Regions from separate parts of the Homo sapiens genome. Here all the other regions are linked to region 3. The links come from fine-mapping of genetic effects on gene expression. A gene starts in region 3. Each other region holds a variant in brackets. All regions are shown on one strand. Distances are from middle to middle.

Region 1 (4,092 bases), 120 kb after region 3:
ATTACGGAAATGAGGACTAAATTAATCCACATGCAAAGCTTCCGTTATAGTTACTGCAGTACTTGGCCTACACTAAGTGCAGACAGTCCATGACTTACGATGGTTTGACTTAAAGATTTTTCAACTTTATAAGAGTGTGAAAGCAATATATGTACAGTGGGAACCGAACTTTGAGTCCCCATACAACCATTCTGTTTTTCACTTTTAGTATTCAATACATTACATGATATACTCTACACTTTATTATAAAATGGGTTTGGTGTTAGATGCAGTTGGTTTGCCCAACTGCATTTTTTTTTTTTTTTTGCATTTTTGTACTTCTTGCATTTTATTATAATAATATTACAGCCTCCTCCTTGGCTCACTCTTTATTCCTTGGTCTGCTGCTGCTTTTAGAATTCTCAACCACTGACCAGCCATCTCTGTCTGTCTATATATACAAGATTTTGTCCATGTCTTCCTGTAAAACAAACACTATGAGAAAGAGGACTTTGTGTCCTTCACTTTTGTGTCCCTGGGCACCAAAATAATGGCTGGCACATGGTTGGTATTCAAGTATTTGCTAAATGAATGAATGCCTCCAGTCTGTACATGGTCTCCTACCACCTTAAGAATAATGACATGGTTTGGCTGTGCCCACCGAAATCTCATCTTGAATTGTAGCTCCCATAATTCCCATGTGTCACAGGAGGGACCTGGTGGGGGGTAATTGAATCATGGGACTTGGTCTTTCCCATGTAGTTCTCCTGATAGTGAATGAGTCTCATGAGATCTAATGGTTTCATAAAGGGGAGTTCCCCTGCACATGCTCTCTCTTGCCTGCTGCCATGTAAGATGTGACTTTGCTCCTCCTTCACTGTCTACCATGATTGTGAGGCCTCACTAGCCATGTGGAACTGTGATTCCATTAAACCTCTTTACTTTACCCAGTCTTGGGTATGTCTTTATTAGCAGTAATTCTTGTGAGCGTCAAATGATGTGTGGAAAGAGTTTTAAGTGTGATAGATAAGGACATAAAAAAGAAATTGCTATAAGCGAAACACATGATCACATTTTTTCCTGAGAACAGACTAATAGAAATAAGCTCCAACCTTTTCATGTCTTATGCCTGCCTCTCTCTGTCATGTCATCTCCCATGTCCTTCTTTTTAAAACAATATATTTTAGCTTAAATGAAGCACCTATGTTTTTCAGAAGCCTGTTGTGGCTTTCACTGTCTCGAATCACTGTCACCCTCTCCACTCCTTTCCCTTTTTTCTTGGCTAAATCCTGTCATCTTCAAGTCTCAGCTCAGGATCAGCTCCCTGGAAAAGCCTTTCCCTGTGCCTCCTGCAGCAACAGCTCTTTGGCAGCCAGTTCATGGCTCGACCACTTTGCTCATCACCCTCTATCTCAAAGGGCTCTTCACTGATTCGCCTTATGGCTACACCCAGCTCCTTGAGGGAAGGGGCTTCATCAGTTTCTTTTTTTATTCATGGGCTTCCACATGATATTTGGTATCTAGTGTATGCTCAATGAAATACATAGACTGGAAAATTCATTTAAAAACAATGTATAATCAGTAGTTGTAAAAAAAATCTTGGCAATCTAAGGAAATCTGTTATGTAATTGATTCCACTGATGAGTCTAAAAAATTACTTGACTTTGTTAATTCAGTTTAATTTATGAAATAAGCATT[T/G]TATAATAATTCTTGGCCAGGCACAGTGGCTCATACCTATAGTCCTGGCACTTCAGGAGGCCAAGGCAGGATTGCCCAAGCCTGGGAATTGGAGACCAGCGTGGGCAACATAGTGAGACTCCCTCTCTACAAAAAATTAGCCCAATGTAGTGGCATGTGCCTGTAGTCCCAGATACTCAGGAGGCTGAGGTGGGAGGTTTGATTGAGCCCATGAGGTCAAGGTGCAGTGAGCCATGATCCACACCACTGTACTCCAGCCTGGGTAACAGAGTGCGACCCTCTCTCAAAAAAGTCAAAATAAAAAGTAATTCTTGTGAGCATCAAATGATGTGTGGAAAGAGTTTTAACTGTGACAGATGATAAGGACATAAAAAGGAATTGCTATAAGCAAAACACATGATTACATTTTTTCCTCAAATATATTTCTAAACCTGTTACTGAAGTTTTGCCAACGAAGGGTTGTTAGGTGAGAAACAAAACTGAGTTCTATAATGTATCATGCTCATTGCTAACATATAAAGCTTATTATTTATAATAGTTTTTCTGTTATTTATATAATCATACTTCAGAGTAAACGAAGAACTTCTATGTTAGAAACCAGCCTCTCAGAGGATTTGTATATCTAACCTATAAACAGAGAAAAATTAAGCTCAAAGATCTGACACAACTCTCAGAAAGTTTACTTTATAAAAACAGAAACCTAACCATCCAGTAAGCAACATGTGTAACAGTGATTAACCTAAAACTCCAAGCACATACCAAAAAGATTAAATAGCAGCTGAAGGGTCTCAGTGTGATCAATTCAGTATACGTTAATAAGCAGTATCCACATACCATCTCTGTAAACACAATAACTCCCTACACTGTTTTTACAAATAAAACAAACATATTGATATCTATCAATAAATATAGCCAGGAATTGACTTCATCTTTTACTAATTTCCACACCCACAAATTACACTCTCCTGAGAATGATTTCATTATTGATATATAACTGGAATTAAGGAATATTTAGGATAATAATGGATATCATTTATTGAGCACATATCATGTTTAATCCTTGCAATGATTCTATGAGGTAGTTATTTTATTTCTTTTTTAGGATGAGGAAATGGAGGCTTCAAAAGGTTAATAAACTTGCTCATGGTAACACTGATGCAAAGCCAGGAGATCTTAGAGTCTGCAGACACCAAAGCTCATGTTAGTGAAAACAAACCACAACCAAAACATTAATGCTGACAGCCTGTGGAATTCTTAACTTGAAACTATCATAACAAATCCTTCCACACCATGAAATCAGTAAGACCATAGCAACAGCGACTGGCAGCACACACCTGTTTTTTCTATACTCTGTGACACATGGAATTATCATCTTGTTAGGTCTTCTCATCATCAACATCGGGAGAGGAGAGTTTAAAAAGCTTAAGCTCATTGCACAGACTTACCTAAGCTTGACCTTGTGTTGGATCTTTCTATTATTGCGTGCTTACTGGGATTGTTTAATACCGAGCGTTTGGCAAGCGAGATGTCAGCGGTGACCCTTGTGATGGATATCCTGTTGGAGGAAAAAGTCACAGAAGACCTTAAGGTTATTGGTCTAATCAAAGGGGATAGAAGTGTATGCCCCAAATTCATCTAAGTATGAAATATATATAGCAACCATATTTTCAAACCATATGTGTTAGGATACTTACTTATTCATTTTTTTTCTTTTTACTTATTCATTTTTATCTTGCACCTGCCTTACTTTGTTTTTTGTTTGTTTTGAGACAGAGTCTCGCCCAGGCTGCCCAGGCTGCAATGCAGTGGTGCGTTCTCGGCTCACTGCAATCTCCACCTTTCAGGTTCAAGTGATTCTCCTGCCTCAGCCTCTGGAGTAGCTGGGACTACAGGTGTGTGCCACCACACCCGGCTAATTTTTGTATTTTCAGTACAGAGGGGGTTTCACTATGGAAGCTGGTCTTGAATTCCTGGCCTCAAGTGATCCGCCTCCCTCGGCCTTCCAAAGTGCTGGGATTATAGGTGTGAGCCACCGCGCCCGGCCCTATCCTGCACCTGCCTTACGTTGCACTTACTTGTTGCTTACAAGTGTCAGATAAGTACTGAGCACTTTATTTGAATTACTAAATGATCCAAAAAGCTCTAGGAGAAACGTTTACTATTATCCCACTGTTGCTGATGAAAAATGAGACTCACAGAGAGATTTTTTATCCAAGGGTATGTATGTAACTAAGTGGGAGAGCTGGGATTTGAACCCAGACTCCTGACCCTATATTCCTAGTCTCTGTGCCATAGTTCATTGCTGTGATAGGCATGAAAAATAAATAAGAACCAGTCTTCCCTCAGATAGCTAATGGTCTAGTGGCAGAGATAAATAATAAAGGAAAATAATTAAAGATGATGATTGTTGTGGAA
Region 2 (4,092 bases), 27 kb before region 3:
TTGTAACTATTCTGTAATTGAAAAAAATCATGACCGTTTTATTTTACACTTTCACTGAAATAGCAGCTAAACTTTTTTTAAGTCATAAATAAAAGTTTTTGTAACTACACTCAACAGTTTACTCCAAGAGAATAAAATAGGGGCTTCAGAGTCCCTAAATTTCCTGAGGGAAAATATAAGATTAAAATGATTATGGTCTCTTGTGAATAGGGCTTAAATATGCAAATAAGTCACTGATGACTGGGATCAACTGATAGTCATTTGATATCTTACCAACACTGATGGAAATATATTCACAGTATAAAAGAATCCATCAAATTTAGGATTTCTCCTTTCCCTTATCTAATTAAACTAATTAAATATTGACTGAGCACTTTCCTATGTGCTTTAATGAAACCATATGTGAATCTCATATATCTACCATGTTGGCCCAGCTGGTAAACAAGAGTAAAACAAAACAAAGTCTCCAAGGAATGCTATCCCTTAGTTATGAATTTTGCATATTTCAAATACAGTTTGGGTGAAGGGGGTTTTTATGGGATGGTACAAACATCCCACAAACTTGAGCAAAGCACCTTATGGATTGAAAAATGAGGTAATTTTTTAATTAAAATTTTACAAGTTGTGCAAGAAAACATATCCATTCTTTTAAAACTTTGTTTTCTATTCCAAAAGCTATGCACAGCACATTTCATATTTCTCCATTTCCAGGAGAAAATGTAGATTACTGGTTTAAGAAATGCAAAAGATGCCTTTATGTGACTACAGTTCCAAATTCTAAAACCCTAATCAGTCTTCACTCCTTTGGCCACATTAAGAATAATACAGGCCATCTAGCTGTATGGTAAAAAGACAGTATTTTTTAGTAATTTTAAGTACCCTAAATACGAGGAGAGGCAGAAATTCACTGCTTTCATTCACATTTTCTCTTACCTAATATCCTTTTGAAGTTTTTTCGACCTCATGATATTGTCTTTACTTTCAAGTGCTTTGAATTTGTTTTTCGTATGCTTCTAAACCTCCAAATTAATATTTCCCAAATGTTTCACCAAACTATATACATTTAAAGCTGCCTTTAGGTCTGAGGGGCACAATTTTTTTTTCTGCTTTAAATTTAAAATGGAATAGTTGAACATATTTTTTTATATTGGTCTTCCTCTATTTATTTTGGTCCCCTAAAATTTTTTAAAAATACTTTTTTGGGGAACCTGGCTTTTGGATTTCAGTCTTCACAGTAAAAGTGAATGAATAAGGAGGAGACGCTACTGAAAAACTAACCTTGAATATAAACCACTTTCAGATTTATGTAGACATTTATGTAGACATTTGTAAAAGACTGACAACCTGGCTACTAACCCTACTCTTTCAATATGGAAAGTCACACAGAACTATAGACTGGGGTGGCATCAAACGGCAATAAACTCTGAACAAATTAACCACTTCCATTCAATTAGTACAAGCCAAGAAAATAAGGTAAATTATCTAGAAGAGAATTATTTCCAACACAGGCTGGTTCTTTCTAAGCAGCTTACTATCCTTTTCTTAGCAATATGGCTTGTTTTCTCTTTTGCATTGTCATTAGCTATTTCTATTCAGCTATTAATTCGCTGAATTTAAGTTGAATAGCAGTTACTGATACGTTTTTCCCTACTTGGTTGTATTCGTATTCTAAATAAAATAACAGGTGGGAATCAAATAATGGATAAAAATACATTTAATTTCATATTACCTGTATTGCCCTACTATTTGAGGGATTTTTAATTTTTAATAGTAGTATATAAGCATTCAGAATTTTAAAACCAAAAGACATTTTAGAGCTGTAGTTTAAGTTCCTCAGTATGGGAAAAACAAAAGGAAAGCCATGGACACTAATTGTCTAAGGTCAACTAGACAATTGAGAAACGGCCAAATTAAGGCTCAAATCCACTTTTTTAGATGGCTAGCACAATATTCTACTAGATACAAGACACCATGCTGTATCTTGAAGTCACTTTACCCC[G/A]GCAAAATGTAAAATAGCCTTTAGGACTGAATTAGAGTGAAGTTTTTTTGGTTCCAAAGCTGTAGACAAAAAGTCTGCCTCATAAAGTTGGTCTCCAAAGATAAATTCCAAAGAAATTTATCCATCTTTAGACACGACACCAGCACATTTTTCTACTGATACGGTTTTACATAGTTAAGGACTAAATAAAAATTGATTATTCAGAATGATTATGTTTATAATTTGTTCTAAGAAACTACACTAAAAAGATTTTTTAAAAAAGCTTCTATATTCTTTAAAATTTTCTTTGTGACCCCCACAACTTTTCAGAGAATATTGTTTACAGCACTGCCTATCACTGTTTCCATACTAAAATAATTATTTTCTCTTTATGCTATAATGAAAGTTAAATTATGCTTAATCAAAATGACTATGGCTATGGGGTGGCACTCATTTAAAATTTTTCAGCAATGAAACTTAAATTTATTACCTTTCTTCTAATGAATATAGAATAAAAGTATTGATACCTTTAAGCATACTAACACAAGAAACTAAAAGCAAAAATTACATATTTAATCTTCAGCTTTTAATAGATTATATATATTAATATTCCAGGTTTTAAGGAATTAAGTTACATTAACAATAAAAAATATTCCATATATTCCCTTATAAAAGGTTCTATTAATTCTAAGAGTTCTCAAATGGGCTTCAATAAGAATGATGGGTTTAAAGATGAAGGACATGACACGCTCAAAATTAAGAAAAATGCTGTATTTGAACTTGCAAGGATAATTGAACACTTTGGTTATAACATACTTAAAAGATTTCTGTTAAAATTTAATTTCCTTGTTTTCAAATTAAAAGGTAGAACAGTCTCCTGAAGGTAATGTAGGTGGGTCCCTTGCTTTTCACTTACTATAAACTGTGCTAACCAATACATGGAGGTGAAGGGGGATATAAAACACAAATTATTTCATCACTGAAATAATTAGCTGCTAACATGACTTCTAAAGAACAGGTATAATATAAAACTAAGAACTTATTTCAAAATATGAATAAAGGCACTAATTACAAATGTACATTTTTTAGACAGTATCTTACAGTTCACTGATTTACAATGAATGTCAGAACCAATGCTCTAGTATTAGATACTTGCTTGGGTTAAAACATTCTCTTGGAGTAAAGAATAATCAGTTTTCACGTTACTGTGACAGGAAAGATTGAGTGAAAACCTAAAAAATACTCTTAAAAAGTCTTACATGAATTTCCTAATCATGAACTTTTCCCAATCAGCACCGTCTACACTGATGCCAATTTCATCTTCAACACATGGCTAACATAAATCATTTCTAATCCAAAACTAACCAAATATTTTTTAAAGGATTTACAAAATAAATTGTATTTTAAAAATTAAATAGCAAATTTGAGTCTATACTAGTAGTTGGCAAAATACAATCAACTATTAAAAACACTTTTAATATAATGCTGATGTGGTAATATAAAAAATAACCATATAATTTGACAGAAGAAAATTGAGCCAGCCAATCTTACTAGATACAAGAAGGCAGATAGTCATTTCATAAGAACAAATACAGGAGTACTAAGTATGCTTTTTCTCAGGACAGACTTAGGGAAACTACCCTCAGTACTTACGGTAAACAACACAACCAAGCAGAAATTCAGGCAAACTGTGCTTAGGTAAATGGCATTTTCTTAATTCCCCCACATCCCACACACACCACAAACCATCCATATCGATTTATGTCTGCTTTTCGCTCATGTTCTTGATTATGGGTTATATTAAAAACTAAGTTAAACTACACTTATCCTCTACTTGATACAGAATCACTAAGAAAACGGCTTAAAACAAAGTTAAACAACTACTTTCCAAAGCCCAGAAAGCTTTCCTTTGGCCACTGTTCAGTTCAAGGGTGTGCTCCAACTAAAGATAAATCAGAAAAATGTTACCACATTCGACTAAATTAACTTGACTAAATATAATAAACCAAGCACACCTGAAAAAAGAGCAAAATTTAAATCAACTTACAAAAATATTAAAATTAAAATACCAATTTTGAACACATATTTTGATATTATGAACTTTGTATCTTTTT
Region 3 (4,092 bases):
TGGCACTAGTGAAGTAATTTCTGGCAAATGCTTTATCAGCATTTTCTTTCCATAGTTTATAGAGATGTTCATCCATCTTTTCATTTAGTCATTCAGTAAGTATTTGAGTGCCCATTATGGATTAGGCTTGGGTACATAGTGGTGTGATAAAGTCTCTATCCTTGTGGAGTTTAAAATGTAGTTCAACTTGTTTCTCCTCCTTTATCGCTAAAATACAGATTCTAGCCATCAGTGGTGCTATGGTCACCATGAAATTCAGGCTACAGAAATTCCTTTGGAAATGTCTGATTTAGACATTTATCACTTTCAGATGTTTTAGCCATGAAAGAATCTCATGGATTTATTGAAGAAATATGCTATGGTCAAGGACAAGGTATTGGCTCTAGAAGCCAAATTACTAGTCTTTATCCTGGCTTTTTATTTGTGAGAACATGGAGAGTTGTTTCAACCCTAGGAACCTTGATTTACTCTTTAAAACAGAGAAAATGGGCTGGGCGTGGTGGCTCACGCCTGTAATCCCAGCACTTTGGGAGGCTAGAGAGTCAGATCAGTTGAAGTCAGGAGTTTGAGACCAGCCTGGCCAGCATGGTGAAACCCCGTCTCTATTAAAATTACAAAGATTAGCTGGGCCTGGTGGCACATGCCTGTAATTTTAGCTACTCGGGAGGCCAAGGCAGGAGAATCTCTTGAACCAGGAGGTGGAGGTTGCAGTGAGTCGAGATCCCACCATTCCACTCCAGTCTGGGCGACAGAGACTCAAAAAAAAAAAAAAAAAAAGAGCAGAGAAAATGATAAACAACTTGCAGGTTGTTGTGTGGTATAATGGTCATTCATTATTTTCTACTCTTTCTGGTAAAGAGTTGGTGTGTCATGGAAAGTACCTGTTCTATGTGTGTGTGTCTGTGTGTATAATTCGGTGTGAAAATTAAAGAGAAAAAAACAATAAAAAACCCTTTCCTATACTTATGTGTAAATTACCATGGTGTGCTGCAAAAAACATATGTCAAGGTGATAGAATTATTTTGACTTTCCTGTACAGTTATAAAATGACTCAGTGAGTTTGGTTAGATATCCTCGTTCTTTGAATCTATATCCTTGTCTGCTTATGATGAAAAAAAAGAAAAAAAAATAATGGCGAGGGTCTTCCAAACTCTAAAGAATATGTCAACTATGATACAAGTAGCAGTTAGCCTTATAACTAACTGTAAACACTGTCTGTGGGTTTTAAGTTTTACCTGAGCATTGGATATTAACAGACCATTAGCCCAACTTTCAAAAATATGAACCCTATGAACTTCACAACTGAAGTCAGATCTGTATGCCTGAGAGAGGTAAAATCATGTCATGAAATCAAACGGTGGCTGATGCGCCCAAATTCTGGCCTCATCCTCTAACTGGAGGACATCTGGCAGGACAGCAACTGGGCTGTGCCTTTTTTCAGTCCAGCAACATCTTCCACTCAACCCACGCCATTTGGCTGTTTCCCCATTGCCCCTGGCACCTAGCCCTCCGGTACCGGGAACTAAATATCTTTGACCATCCCGCCCGCGGGGTCTGCCTACTTAACCTGAGGCAGGTGAAAGAGCCTCACGCAGGGTTAGGAACCTCCGGGGGCGTGGCGTAGCGTAACGCAGTGTTGGGGAAACTTGCGGCTGTGGATTGGGGGACCGGAAAGGGAGGGGTGGGCCGCAGGCGCCGGACGTGACGTAAGCCGGAAGCGACTTTCCGCCGAGAAATAGGGGGCGCGTGTTTGGAAATTGATAGAAAAGATAAAGGGACCGAGCTGCTGTCAGCCTGGCTTACTGATCTGCGTCCGTTTCACCACGGATTCAGTTACTAAGCATTTTTTTCTTTTTTTGGTTCTTTGCAACGTGAGTGGCATTGGCTCAGTGATTTCCATGAGCATCTCTACCAGAAAACATTGCCTCGATGAGGTGTGGTGGAAGCCCGGCAGCCCCTTCTAATCGGCTAGGCTTGAGAAAGCGTGTACCTCTGCATTTCCGAAATTAACTCAGCGTGATCGGCAAGATTTTCCTCAGCATCTGGTGTCAAGACACTCGTCACTATTAATTCGGAAAGAAAAAAAAAAACAAAACACCGTTTTCCAGCATTTCTCTTGGTGGAGAACTAAACAACAGGAAAAATGTCTATTTTCCCTAAGATATCTTTGAGACCTGAGGTTGAAAACTATCTTAAGGAAGGCTTTATGAATAAGGAGGTAGGTCAAGTAAAGATGTTAGTTGATATTTTGCAAAAACTCAAATATTCGCACACTCGAGAGAAATAGAAATAAGTATAAAGGGAAATCTTGACAGCCGTCGTTCCTTACTACTTGTCTATCAAGTGTAAAAATACCAATATGTTTCTACAGGTATTAAAGCTTACTGAGATACGAAGTGAATAAGGTATATGTTTTAACATTTAGGAGTGGAAAAGAAGGGAAAAAAGGCATGTGCCTGTCAGGCATGGCACAAAGGGTTACAAGGATGAACAAGAAAAGGTCCCTGTCTTCAAGAACTCGAATCGAATTTTAAAAGAGCGCTGGCTCTGGCACTCAGGTGAAAAGGTTTCTGTAATTTGTTGAGTGCCTCTTAAATGCCAGCAGTTGTGCTAGGAGATTTGCATCTTTAATCTTCACAATCTTTTTTTTCTTAGAGGTTTTTCCTCTTTTAATAGACTTGAGCAGAAAACTGCTCAAGGAATTGTGTAACTGATCCAAGTTGACACAGCTATCAAGTAACTATTGAAATCTGGAGGGAAAGAGTTCAGGTGTAATGAACAAAGGTACAGCTTTTGAATCTCAGGCACATGATTTGCATTCTAGTGCTTTGTAAATTACGTGGCTTAACCTAGATTTTTCTCTTCTGTGAAAAATTGAGAATGGTTAAAAATATCTTGCCAGGTTGTTTTAGGATATTAAACGTAAGTGAATACAACTAGCATTGTTTTGGCATGTAAGTCCTCAAAAAATGTTAATTTTATTTGCTAAAGTCCTCAGTAAATGTTGATTATCTTTGATTGCAAAGCCTGTTGTCTATTCCATTTTACCATGCTGCCTCTAAGCAACTTTGTTTTTTTTCAAATCTTTAATTTTTTAGTCAAGTTAAAAATATTTTACCAGGTTGTTTTAGGATATTAAACGTAAATGAAAACAACTTGCATTGTTTTGGCATGTAAGTCTTCAAAAAATGTTAATTTTGTTTGCAATTGGCAGTGCCTGCCACAGAAGTCCTCAGTAAATGTTGATTGTCTTTTATTGCAAAGCCTGTCCTCTCTACCACTTTACCATGTTGCCTCTAAGCAACTTTGTTTTTTTTGAAATCTTTAGTTTTCTTAGTTAGAGTAACACCACTTAAATGTTACTCATTTTTGAATATGTTATTGAAGCCATGCCTTTTAGATTTGATTTCTACGTTTCATTTCCAAAGATTAGCTTGAGGTACTAGACTGTATGGAAAGAGAAAATATATTCTGTTGATTTCAAGGGACTTAAAATATAAGGCACATATTAGGAGAAGTAGGGGCATACCACAATTTTTTCAGCAGATTTTAAAATGGAGAACGTCGTTTTATAAAGAAGATCCAAACGTCTTTCTTTGACACTGCCTCTGCCTCGAGTCTCATCAGTGGTATGGTTTTACAAAATGAAAAGCTATGCCTTTGTGAAAAGTACTGAAGGGAAAGGAATATTAAGTTTTATGCCTTTTTTTTTTTTTTTTGAGACAGGGTCTCCCTCTGTTGCCCATGTTGGAGTGCAGTGACATGATCACAGCTCACTGCTGCTTCGACCTCTGGGACTCAAGTGATCCTCTCACCTCAGCCTCCCGAGTAGCTGGGACCTCAGACAGGGGCCACCACTCTGGCTAATAATATTTGTATTGTTTGTAGTGATGGGGTTTCACCATGTTGCCCAGGCTGAATGTTCAGTTTTGATAAGACTAAACCTTGAGAAAGTATGAATACTTTTAAGGCTGGTGCATGAGTAGGCTAACAAGTGGTTTGTGAAGATTCTGTAAAGCAGGGTTTAGTCAAATAGGAAGACAAAGAAATACGTTTCTTGAAAAGCTTCGGTTAATTACAAGGGAATATTGT
Region 4 (4,092 bases), 100 kb after region 3:
TTTCCACTACATTCCATTCCATTCTCCATTCCATTCCATTCTTCCTTCCATTCCGTTCCACTCCATGCCATTCCATTCCCTATTCCATTCAAAACAATCTCCATTCCACACTCCATTTCATTCCATTCCATCCTCCCTTTCATTCCATTCTCCACTCCATTCCTTTCTCCGCTCCATTCCATTCTCCATTCCATTCCATTCTCCATTCCAGTTCATTCTCCATTCCATTCCATTTCGCATTCCATTCCATTCTCCATTCCATTCCATTCTCCGTTCTGCATTCCATTCCATTCTCCTTCCCATTCCCTTCCATTCTCCATTCCATTCTCTTCCATTCTGCATTTCATTCCATACCATTCCCCATTCCATTCCATGGAATGGAGAACGGAACGGAATAGAGAATGGAATGGTATGGAGGATGGAATGGAATGGAGAATGAAATGGAATCGAATGGAGCATGGAATGGAATGGAGAATGCAATGGAATGGAATGGAGAATGCAATGGAATGGAATGGAGAATGGAATGGAAGGGAAGGGAGAATGGAATGGAATGGAGAATCGAACGGAATGGAATGGAGAATGGAATCGAACTGAAGATGGAATTTAATGGAATGGAGAATGGATTGGGAAATGGAATGGAGAAGGGAATGGAATGAAATGGAGAATAGATTAGAGAATGGAGTGGAATAGAATGGAATGGAATGGAATGGAGAATGGAATGTAATGGAGAATTGAGTGGAGAATGGAATGGAGAGTCGAGTGTAGTGGAATGGAATGGAAGGGAGAATGGAATGGTGAATTGAGAATGGAATGGTATGTGGAATGCAGTGTAGTGTAGAATGGAATGTAATGGAGCATGGAATTGATTAGGGAATTTGAATGGAGAAGAATGGAATGGAGAATCAAATGGAATGGAGAATAGAATGGAGTAGAGAATTGAATGGAGTGGAATGGAGAATGGAATGGAACGCAGAATGGAATGGAATGGGGAATGGAATGGAATGGAATGGAGAATGGAATAGAATGGGGAATGGAATGGAATGCGGAATGAAATGGAATGCGGAATGGAATGGAAATCTTGGTAGCAGGTAGACAGCCCAAATATGTAAACAGACCACTTGGTTTCACACCTTCCTCCAATAATATTAAATAGATTAGAAGTTAGAGAAAATTACTGAAGTGAATGCAAAGGAAAACTTCGTGGAAGATTGAATCTAGGGGTGGTACTGGCTCATTCTCCCTATTCTAGACCATAGCCATTCTCATGGCCACAGAAACAAGGAGACTCAGGAACACAGAATCAGTGTGTTTCACAACAGTCAAACAGGCATTTTCTTGGGGGCTGTCTTCAATAGGAATTACCAAGAGAAGTATCCATTTCCAGAACAACTAGAATTAATTCCAAGTCCTAGCTTTGATGAGTTGTGGCTTCTGAAGTTTGGGGTAGAAGGTCTTTTGTGATTAGGCCTTGGTTTGTACTATATCAACAGAATAACTTTTCAACTATAACTACATTTTAAACCTTTCTACCACATCAAATCTGTATTAGGTATAAGTCAAAATTAGTTTAACCAGCTACTTGATTGAAGGGAGAAATTGTTTCATTTTTTTATTCTAGATTATGATTTTAAATTCCTGCTCATCTCAGGAGTTTTCTAGTTTAAACCTATATGGAAGATAGTAAACATGATTATAATTCTCTTTATAGGAGAACCTCCATTTCTACCAGAATCCTTTGACCGAATTCTTCTGGATGCACCCTGTAGTGGAATGGGACAGAGACCAAACATGGCCTGTACTTGGTCTGTGAAGGAAGTGGCATCATATCAGCCATTACAGCGAAAACTCTTCACTGCAGTATGTGGTGGTCTGTTTTTGTGAAACAAAGTTAACTTTTGCTACTTTGATGTTTAAACTACTGACAGCAATCTCCATAGCAGCGTTCATTACAATAGCCAAAAGGTGGGAACAACCCAAGAGTCTGTTGACAGATACATGGATAACAGAATGTGCTATATCCATACATGGAACATTATTCAGCCTTCAAAGGGAATGAGATTCTGATACAGGCACAACATGGGTGAACCTGGAAAACATTATGCTCAGTAATATGAACCAGACACAAAAGGAAAAATGCTTTAAGATTTTGCTTATATGAGGTAGCTGGGAAATTCACAGAGA[C/G]AGGAAGAAGAATAGATACTACCAGGCATTGTGGGGCTGGGAGATTGAGGAGCTATTGTTTAATGGGTATAGACTTGCAGTTTGGGATAATGAAAAAGTTCTGGAGATGAATGGTGGTGATCATTGCCCAGCAATGTGACTGTACTGAATGTCATTATTGACTTAAAATGGCTAAAATGATAAATTTTATGTTATTTATATTTTACCACACACACACACACACACACACACACACACACACACACACACACACAACTGAGAGGACCTAGTTTTAAATATAGGAAGTTTTCATTTAAGTTGACTCACCTTTAAGATATACAGGCAATAGTAGAATTTCATCACTGAGATATTTAATAAATTTCAAATATTCTCTATCTGAAAAAAGTCACTGAGTTGTTAACTTGTAGTTACTAATTGATGTAAAGAATTAGATATAAAATAAATTACTCTTTTTTTTAAAAAAATAGAGTTATTGGCTAGTATGGTGGCTTGCGCCCATCATCTCAGCACTTTGGGAGGCTGAGGCGGGCTGATCACCTGAGGTCAGGAGTTCGAGACCAGCCTGGCCAACATGGCAAAACCCCGTCTCTACTAAAAATACAAAAAATTAGCTGGGTGTGGTTGTGGGCGCCTGTAGTCCCAGCTACTCGGGAGGTTGAGGCAGGAGAATTGCTTGAACTCGGGAGGCGAAGGTTGCAGTGAGCTGAAGTCATGCCACTGCACTCCAGCCTGGGCAACAGAGTAAGATTGTCTCAAAAAAAAAAAAAAAAGAGATTTTTTGGGGGTCGTCTTTAGAAGAAGGCCCAATAGGGAGCAAAACTCATTGATAAAAACAGGAAGAGACAGTGGCCAGCGTAGGATATAGGAGAACCATAAAAACTGTACAAATTTAACTTGTCTCCAGCACTTTCAGAAGCCCAGATAGAACATTTGAGGATTTCTCCTAGTCTTTCAAAAATGACTCAGTGGATTTCAGCGTGTATAGGCAGTGTTTGATCATAGATGAATTCATTATTTCCTCCCAGCCCTCCAAAATACAAGGCTAGAGCAACAATGGATGTTCTATAATGATTTAGTTTCTAAAGCTGCCTTTGAGTACATTCTGATTCAACTCTCCTGGTGTTTCCTTTCATATACAAAGGTAGCACTGGTTGTGTATTATTTAACTTCGTCTTTTTCTATGAAGTCTTCGAAGAACTCATCCTCAGAATTAAAACAGCAAGCAGCAAAAAGGAAACTTTAGTTACAGCCGAAACCCACTTTGACTTGAGAATAAAATTAGGATACTTCTGTAAAGGACTTGGATTTCTGTTCTTATTAGGTCACAGCAAAAATGGTATTTTAAAAGGCTACTAGGAGTAGATGAATGATCTCAATGAGAAGGAAAAGCTGACAGTATATCAGAGAGAACTAGAATATAGCAGGTTTGCCATTTGGCATGGAGAGAAATCGAGAATGTGGACTTGAGCCTTGTTGACTTGAGCCATGGCTCTTCCACCTAAGTGACTTTAGGTACATTGTTTTCTATATCTGAGTAGCAGGGATAACAGCTCTACCTATTAGGAATACCTCATTGGTGATAGTCATCTTACTTTGTGGTTGTTATAAGGATTTATTGAGAAAAATTCATATACAGTGTTTCACACAGTAACTGGCACATAGTAACAAAGTTTAAATTTTGATCAGCATACTCTGATTTAAAAAGCACAAGTATGTATACTCTATTTTTAAAGATTTCCTTTAAATTTTTAAAAATTAGGAGCTTGAAAAGCTGAACTTTAGGTATTTCAGACAAGTCCATTTTAGCACAATACCTTATCTCCTGATTAATTTATTCAACAAATACTCATAGATCTCCTGTATGTAAGACGCTATTCTAGATGTTGACGGTACAGCATTGAGAAAGTGGAC
Region 5 (4,092 bases), 32 kb after region 3:
AACAATGCTGACTTAAATATTGATACTTGCATATGACATACTGTGTTTTTATATTGTCAGTCCTGGTGTCTATGGATCCCCAAGACCATTCCTTGGTTCTGTGATTCTCTAAGAGGAATTAGGGAATTCAGCACATACTTGTACTTACGGCTATGATTTGTTACAGTGAAAGAATATGAAGCACAATCAGCAAAGGGAAAACCATCACAAGCTTCCAGAGTCCTCTTCCAGGGGAGTCACACAGGACTCCCACAGGAAGTCCCCCAGTGCTGAGCTGTGACCACATGAGACTCACTGCCAGGATTCCTATTCAGGGCTCATCATGTAGATTCCCACTGCCTGGTACATACCCACATTCTGGATTCTCAGAAGGAAAGCTGGTATTTACTATAAATCATAGTTTGTTCAATAATTCAGGCACAGTGAGCCACTCTTAGCAGTTAATAAGTAAACCTCCTGAAATCTCAGTTCCCAGATGTCAGTCAAGGGCCAGCCTTGTAAGCAGGCTTTTCAAAGATAACAGATCAGGCCTACTATGTTAACTTTTTTCTGCACAGTTCTCTGTTCCAGAATTCATCCTTTCCCCTCCATGTTATTTTCATAAAATCTAACACTACAGATTTCACTTCCACAAAACATGTTTTTGAATTTGTGCTATATGTGAGATGTGATGGTGTTACAAAGATGAATGAGACATAGTTCTATAGTCTAAAGTCAGGAGACTTTGGTACAAGTCAGACTGTTATGATAGTCACAGTAGAAGTATAAATTAAATGCTATTGGAGCATAGAATAGGAAGGACTGAGTACAAAGAAATTGTTAAATATTTTCTCTAAGCAGATATTATTTCATTTGAGTCTTGAAGGTGAGGAGAAATTAGGCCGAAGGGCTGTTAAGGTGGGCAAGGTTATGCTAGGCAGAGAGAAGGCATGAGGAAAGACATGAATGCATGAAACATTGGTGGCTGCTGATAAAAGTGATCAGGTTTGGCTATTTGTTTTCAGAGTTGGGGGATGGGTGAAAGATGAAACTGAAGAAGTTGGGAGAGGCAGATATGAAGTATGAAGATTTTTTTGTACCAAGGAATTTTTTTTTCATAGACTTAAGAAGCTAAAGAATTTTTATTGTCGGGCGCAGTGGCTCATGCCTGTAATCCCAGCACTTTGGGAGGCCGAGGCGGGCGGATCACGAAGTCAGGAGATCGAGACTATCCTGGCTAACACGGTGTAACCCCATCTCTACTAAAAACACAAAAAATTAGCCGGGTATGGTGGCGGGTGCCTGTAGTCTCAGCTACTCAGGAGGCTGAGGCAGGAGAATGGCGTGAACCCGGGAGGTGGAGCTTGCAGCGAGCCAAGATGGCGCAACTGCACTCCAGCCTGGGAGACAGAGCTAGACTCCGTCTCAAAAAAAAAAAAAATTTTTTTTATTAGTAAAAATTAGATGTGTATTTTAGAAATATAATAGTGGTAGTGGTCTTCCAAACTGCTTGGAGATCATGACCCATTAGTAACTTGTGAAATCAATTTAATGTTTTCAATGAATATTTAAAAAAAAAGGGATGTTTTATAATATATTGCATCGCACATAGTAAAAATATTTAATGAAATGTTATGTGTGATACCACACACACAGACATGTATGTGTAGTTTCTTATATCAAGATCTCAAATGATATAAAAACTTGAAATAAGTTCTTTTATCAAGTGTGTTTCTTACATCAACTGACAGTCAAAAGTTTCAGAAATTTTTTCAAAAGTTGAATTGCAAACCTGGAGAAAAGTTAGAAAAGTATTTCCGAGTTTTTTAGCTTCAATAATATGTATGGTGAATTAGATAACATGAAGATGTTTTTGCTACATACACCGAGGAGTGCTAAGTAAAAAAGAACATAGTAGGCCACAAAATGA[T/A]GTAGTTGAGTGATTAAAAATGTAGTTGATATATTAGAGGTTAGGAATGCAGAATAATTGAAAAGAGAACAGCAAGCATGTGAGTTATTATTGGGGGGTTGAAGGTATGGGAAAGGAGGTGGTCTTTCTTCTAAATTTAGGGTCTTTGGTTTAAACAATTAAGTGTTAATAGTAAGGGTGAGAAATACCCAGTAGTCATTACAAGGCAGTAATTAAAAGTAGGTCTTTCTTGCCTTAGGATATAGGTTGGAGAAAAATGTGTTTCTGAGAATGCGCAGCCGTAAGTTCCCTCCGTCATAAAGGTCTGGAATGCAAATTGCTGCAACCTAAATTGGAACCTGCAAACTGGGAAATTAACTGTTTGGTCCCAAGCCAATTCCTGGGTACTTGGCAAAAACTAAGTGACACCACTCTGGAGCAGCACTCATTCAGTCCAAGCCAAACACTTGGCATTGTTAAAAGCTACACTGGGAATCAAACCACTATGAGTAAGAATCAGCATATATAATAAGCTGCAGGATTGGATTTCCCTCAGAACTTTTAACAAATAGACCTCTCTGGCATAGACTATAAAAACAGTTTTCTTCCAAGATCAGCTGAGATCGGGCATGTTCAGAGTGATATGGCTGTAGACAAAACAGTTTTCTTAAAATGATTAAAAATGAAAGAGTAAAACATAAAAGACCCTAAGGATAAAAAGGTAGAATTGAAAACAAATTTCTAAAAATAAATTATCATTAAAATTAAAAACTCATACAATGAATTAAACAGCAGATTAGACCCAACTGATGAGAAAGTTTTTGAATTAGGAGATGACTCTTAGGAAATTATCTAGAATGCAGCAGAGAGAAATTAAAAATATGAAAGTGAAATTGAGTCATGAAAAAGCACTTTACGTTTCTTTTTTTTTTTTTTTTTTTGAGATGGAGTTTTGCTCTTATTGCCCACGCTGGAGTGCAATGGCACCATCTCGGCTCACTGCAACCTCCACCTCCTGGGTTCAAGTGATTCTCCTGCCTCAGCCTTCCAAGTATCTGGGATTACAGGCATGCGCCACCATGCCTGGGTAATTTTGTATTTTTAGTAGAGACGGGGATTTCTTCATGTTGGTCAGGCTGGTCTTGAACTCCCAACCTCATGTGATCCACCCACCTCAGCCTCCAAAAGTACTGGGATTACAGGTGTGAGCCACTGCACCTGACCAGCATTTATATTTTTAATGAGTCTCAGGTATAGAGAATAGGAATAATGGGGGAAAGACAATAATCACAAGTGTAATGACCATGAATTTCTATCACTGATGAAAAATTTAAGAAGTGTGAGCTTGAAGCCAAAAGTAAAAGTAGATTCATGTCTACATACTTCAGAGTGAAGTTGCAGAACACCAAAGACAGAGAAAATCTGAAACCAGTGGTAAAAGGCAGGAAGCTATTTCAGTAATCACAAAGAGATATGTGTCCAACATCAGGAGATACGCCCACAAAACCTATCAGAACTAGAAGATAGCTTGATTCCTAAATCAATCAATGTGAAGGCTTAGGAGGACTTTAAGATGACGCTGAGTGTCTTAGTTTATTTTTTGCTGCTATAGCAGAATACCTGAGACTGGATAATTTATAAAGAACATAAATTTGTTTTTTGTAGTGTTGGAGGATACGAAGTCCAAGATCGAGGCATTTGCATCTGGTGAGGGCTTTCTTGCTGCATCTGTACATGGTAGAGGGCACAAGGGCAAGAGAAAGCAAACTCACTGCTGCAAGCCCTTTTTATTATAGCATTAATTCATTCATGAGGGCAGAGCACTCATGACCTGAACAGCTCCCAATAGGCCTCATATTCCAACACTGTTGCACTAGGGATTAAGTTGCCAGCACATGAATATTGGGGGACACATCCAGACCGTAACACTGAGGCATCTAGTTTGGTTATCTGGGCAGATAATGACGTCTCATTCAAGATTGGAAACAGGATGAAAAGATTTGGGATCCTGCCAAGGAGTGGAGGAATGGATGAGGGAAAACTGATTATTGTTTAGGACTTGTTGAGTTTGAAGTAACTGTGAGACGTCTCTATATAGCTGTCCGTAGGTAATTAGAAATACTAATTAAGAGTCTAAGCTGGGCGTGGTGGCTCATGCCTATAATCCCAGTACTTTGGGAGGCTGAGGCTGGTGGATCACCTGA
Region 6 (4,092 bases), 110 kb after region 3:
CATTTGAAAGACATTATACCTTTTGCTTTGAAATTCATTCATATGTTTATCTGGTCTTGTGCTGTGTGTGGTCTGATCACAGTTTTCTTTAGGCGGTTCAGCTGCTGAAGCCAGAGGGTGTGCTGGTTTATAGCACGTGCACTATAACACTGGCCGAAAATGAAGAACAGGTTGCCTGGGCCCTGACAAAATTTCCTTGCCTTCAGCTTCAGCCCCAGGTAGGAGTAATTTCATTTTTCTCTGTGTAATAAGATAAATCACAGAAACTGAAGCACTGTGGTAATCAGGGTGTTAACGAAGAGATAAGTAAAACTTCCAAAGTGAACACTGTAATAAACAAGAATGCTTATCTAATTAAATCCACTTTAGACTGCCCATAATTTGCATGTCCTGACAAAGTTTTTTCTCATCTTTGTTCCTGCCATTGTGTTAAAATGGCACAGAGCTTGGGAGTGTTTTTGTTATGTGTTTATTCCCCTTGTAGCTATTCATGTTACTCGGCACCTTTTTTCTAAAAAGATTTTTTTCTCCTTCCCAGTCCTGTATTTTTCTGACATGGAAAATGTTGAGCATTTTCTCTCATGTCACATCAAAGCTCAAATGAGCTTTAATAACTGTGGGATATCAGAAGACCAGCTGAAAGGGAAAAAAGTATTTCTGGATTATTGCTTATTATATAAAATGTATAATATTTAAAAAGCTTTGCTATACTTTCTTTTACCTAACACAACTCTTTATGTTATGGTCTTTATTAGAAATGTATTTTTGATTCAATTTTTAGTCCAGGATATTTGAGATTAAGTTTAAATCTGTAATAATGCTCGCATACATTCAGATACATTGAGCATCTAACTTTAGTACCTTTCTATACAGAAATTAGGTAATGGGAATACATAAATAAAGACAATTCAGAGATGGTTTCTAGTCTCGTAAATTAAGATAATTACATTGTAGATGAAAGGAAGACTTCGGAATTCATTTGGAAATATACACACACTCAAAATATATACCTAAAAGGGATGGGAAGTTTTCCCCTGACCTCCATGGGATAATAAACGATCTGTTTTCTTAAGTATATGTCTGAAAACCTATCTTCATTAACATGCAGATGATTGTCTGTGATGGTGACTTAGGATTATAGATCTTCTTCAGTAGTTTGCAAGTATCATTCAATGCCTTATGATTCCTCTAAACTAATTGATACAGCCTTAAATTATGTTTCCTTTCTTATGTTTGTTTTTCTAGAAACTTTTCTCGCCCAACTGGTATGGGTCAGAGAGAGGTACCTTAGATGCCCAAAGACCACCTTTCAGTTTTGGAAACTGTTAAATAAAGCTGAATTTTTTCTGTTGCTTTCTTTTTTCTTTTTTCTTTTTTCTTTTTCTTTTTCTTCTTCCCCTCCCCGTCCCCACTCCCTTCCTTCTCTTTTCTTTTCTTTTCTTTCATTTTTTGTTTTTTGAGATGGAGTGTCACTCTGTCGCTCAGGCTGGATTGCCCAGGCACAATCTTGGCTCTCTGCAACCTCTGTCTCCCGGGCAATTCTCATGCCTCAGCCTCCCAAGTAACTGGGATTACAGGCATGCACCACCACACCTGGCTAATTTTTGTATTTTTGGTAGAGACAGGGTGTCACCTTGTTGGCCAGGCTGGTCTTGAACTCCTGACCTCAGGTAATCAGCCCGCCTCGGCCTCCCTAAGTGCTGGGATTATAGGTGTGAGCCACTGTGCCTGGCCTTTGCTGCTTTATTGATAATAATGTTCCATTTACTGAGTCCCTGCTATATGCCAGGTGTGATACCACCTTCGTTACTTAAGCCTTGTTTAATAGATGAGGAAATGTGGTTAGTTAACATTACCTAAAGTCACACAGCTAAAATGTGGTAGAGCTGCAATTTGAGTCCACTTGTTTCCAACTAGGAAGCTCAGGCCTTTGATAATGTCACAGTGTTTGATAAGCATGTAATAATAGGTATTTGTTCATCAGGTGACGCATAGTATTGCTTTCCTACTTTACTGTCTGGAAAGCAGCACGTATGTTCCACCAAAATGAAAGGCATTTACTCATTTTTCTATTTTTGGAAGATGTAGTCGTTACAGCCCAATTTGTCTTTTAACTTAAATTGTAGCAGTCATACTTGCTAATTACAGGATGTTCATCCATATTGATCCACTTTCTCCAAACAGGAACCGCAGATTGGAGGAGAAGGAATGAGGGGAGCTGGGCTCTCATGTGAACAGTTGAAACAGCTGCAGCGATTTGATCCATCGGCTGTGCCATTACCGGACACTGACATGGACTCTCTTAGAGAGGCCAGAAGAGAAGACATGTTGCGTCTGGCTAATAAGGACTCTATAGGTTTTTTTATTGCAAAATTTGTAAAATGCAAAAGCACATAGGAGAGGGATGGATGCTCAGAAATGAAAATTCCAAACATTTGCTGTCTGTGGTTTTTTTTTTTTT[A/TTTTTTA]ACCAAAGTGTTGTCAGGCCAACTGAATGATGATGTGGTTGCTATGGAAACAGAAAAGGCTGCCAGCTGTTTTACCAGGGATCCAGAGACATAGAGGAAGTAGGGGGTGGTATGAGATTATATTTTCTGTTTTTAAAAGATTTTTTTTTTTTATGTATTTAGTAGAGTATAAAGAAAAGCAGATGCCTATAGATGTCTGGAGCATATTTTCATTTGTGATCTAATGTTTTAATTTGTAAAGTGTACAAGTCATTTTTAATGTTAAAAATTAGTGAATCTAACAAAAGGAATAAATTAGCAATATTTGATGTGGTTATGAAAAGTTGTTTTTGTTTCTAGGTTCCTAGTTTCTTAAGGATTCAGGGCATGGGAAGTAAAACATTGACTATGTGCCAATAATGGAGGTAAGTATTTTACCTGACTCTCTGTCTGCTTATTTAGTAAGTCAACCCCCTTTCAAATGAAGTCTGGACCTCCTCTGAATGATAGTGTGAAGTGATAGTCTAAAGACTATCGTAGTCTAAATGGTAGTCTATGTTCAATGTTTTTCATAATTTTAAACGAAAAAGTAAAGTTAGTATTTTCTTTACTTTGTAGATTTAGAAAATGAGATTATTCTACAATTTGGATAACTTATCATGTATTTGAAACATATCAGTTATTAGAAAATGCTTGGTGAGAAAGAAAAAACCAGCTCTGGCAGCTGGGAAGTGGCCTGACCTGACCCTTATAGCTGGGCCTTGGTGTTCTCCTGTTGAACGTAAGCAGTTTCACCTATCCCCAACATCAGACAAGGCAGCCGTACCTATCATAGATCCAGACAAAAAAAGACCACAATCAAGTCTGAATTCAGACAAAAAGCAGATCATCCTTCGAATTGCAAAAATCAAGCATCCCACTGTAGTGGCCAAAATAAGTGACTGCTTTTCAATTTAATTTTACTTTTTAAAGACAAGGTCTTGCTCTGCCACCCAGGCTGGAGTGCAGTGGCATGATTTCATAGCTCACTACAACCTCAAACTCCTGGGCTAAAGCAATCTTCCTGCCTCAGTCTCCCATGTAGCTAGGACAACACAGTTGTGTGCAACCATGCTTGGCTAATTTTTTTTTTTTTTTTTTTTTAAAGAGATGGGATCTTGCTTTGTTACCCAAGCTGGTCTTGAACTCCTGGCCTGAAGCAGTCCCGCTGCCTTGGCCTTCTAAAGCACTGGGATTACATATGTTAGCCATTGCACCCAGCCAGCTTTTAAAAAAAACATTACAGCCTTAGGATTTTGCCTTCCTATTGGCTTTTTAGATCAATCAGAATACTTACTTCCCAGCCATAGTTTTAAGGCTGTCTCATGGTGTTAAATCCATCATACTGTTTTGTTAACTTTCATTCAAATCACCCAAAAGTTATTAGGCCTTGGGCTTAAGAAATGGACAATTGGTTAATAGTTTGATTTCCGCCCGCCCCCCCGCCCCGCCCTCCACAGGTTTTCTTTAGGAATTTCTCATAACTATTTATTGTATCCATAAGGATTGCAAGGTCTCTTGGATCAGGTAAGACCTTTAGATTGCCTCTTCTTTAAAGGAGGCTTTCTTGAATACCTTTCCCTGAGGTTGGATAGGCACTGCTCCCCTTCTCT

Which allele goes with the higher level. Positions count from the first base shown, and alleles are read on the strand shown. Sizes are in standard deviations (SD) of each study's normalised expression. Not every link is listed here.
For the expression in CD4 T cells of the gene that starts at base 1,760 in region 3, allele G in region 1 goes with a lower level than allele T (moderate effect, 0.52 SD a copy in CEDAR).

The links. PIP is the estimated chance that this variant, and not a neighbour inherited with it, causes the effect. A credible set is the group of variants that fine-mapping cannot tell apart.
Region 1: its variant is the best candidate, but not a certain one, in a credible set for the expression of NSUN6 in CD4 T cells (CEDAR, PIP 0.90).
Region 2: its variant is the best candidate, but not a certain one, in a credible set for the expression of NSUN6 in whole blood (TOPMed, PIP 0.59).
Region 4: its variant is the best candidate, but not a certain one, in a credible set for the expression of NSUN6 in whole blood (TOPMed, PIP 0.74).
Region 5: its variant is the best candidate, but not a certain one, in a credible set for the expression of NSUN6 in whole blood (INTERVAL, PIP 0.75).
Region 6: its variant is the best candidate, but not a certain one, in a credible set for the expression of NSUN6 in whole blood (INTERVAL, PIP 0.56).

What each region holds. Positions count from the first base shown.
Region 1 is chr10:18,526,728-18,530,819 of GRCh38, reverse strand. CACNB2 (calcium voltage-gated channel auxiliary subunit beta 2) reads right to left here. Exons shown (of 14, transcript NM_201596.3): 10 at 3,123-3,232. The region is part of intron 1 of CACNB2-AS1 (CACNB2 antisense RNA 1); the gene reads left to right. Among named protein-coding and RNA genes, the nearest start is that of CACNB2-AS1, 11 kb to the left of the region's middle. The variant T/G (reference allele first, on the strand shown) is at 1,678.
Region 2 is chr10:18,676,657-18,680,748 of GRCh38, reverse strand. It overlaps ARL5B (ARF like GTPase 5B), which reads right to left. Exons shown (of 6, transcript NM_178815.5): 6 at 1-4,092. Among named protein-coding and RNA genes, the nearest start is that of ARL5B, 19 kb to the right of the region's middle. The variant G/A (reference allele first, on the strand shown) is at 2,000.
Region 3 is chr10:18,649,255-18,653,346 of GRCh38, reverse strand. It overlaps NSUN6 (NOP2/Sun RNA methyltransferase 6), which reads left to right and starts at 1,760. Exons shown (of 11, transcript NM_182543.5): 1 at 1,760-2,218. The coding sequence starts at 2,144. RefSeq lists an enhancer at 1,521-1,620.
Region 4 is chr10:18,549,588-18,553,679 of GRCh38, reverse strand. It overlaps NSUN6 (NOP2/Sun RNA methyltransferase 6), which reads left to right. Exons shown (of 11, transcript NM_182543.5): 9 at 1,709-1,857. Among named protein-coding and RNA genes, the nearest start is that of CACNB2-AS1, 12 kb to the right of the region's middle. RefSeq lists an enhancer at 627-1,128. The variant C/G (reference allele first, on the strand shown) is at 2,182.
Region 5 is chr10:18,617,420-18,621,511 of GRCh38, reverse strand. The region is part of intron 3 of NSUN6 (NOP2/Sun RNA methyltransferase 6); the gene reads left to right. Among named protein-coding and RNA genes, the nearest start is that of NSUN6, 32 kb to the left of the region's middle. The variant T/A (reference allele first, on the strand shown) is at 1,910.
Region 6 is chr10:18,544,238-18,548,329 of GRCh38, reverse strand. NSUN6 (NOP2/Sun RNA methyltransferase 6) reads left to right here. Exons shown (of 11, transcript NM_182543.5): 10 at 93-218; 11 at 2,185-2,769. The coding sequence ends at 2,397. Among named protein-coding and RNA genes, the nearest start is that of CACNB2-AS1, 7.0 kb to the right of the region's middle. The variant A/TTTTTTA (reference allele first, on the strand shown) is at 2,462.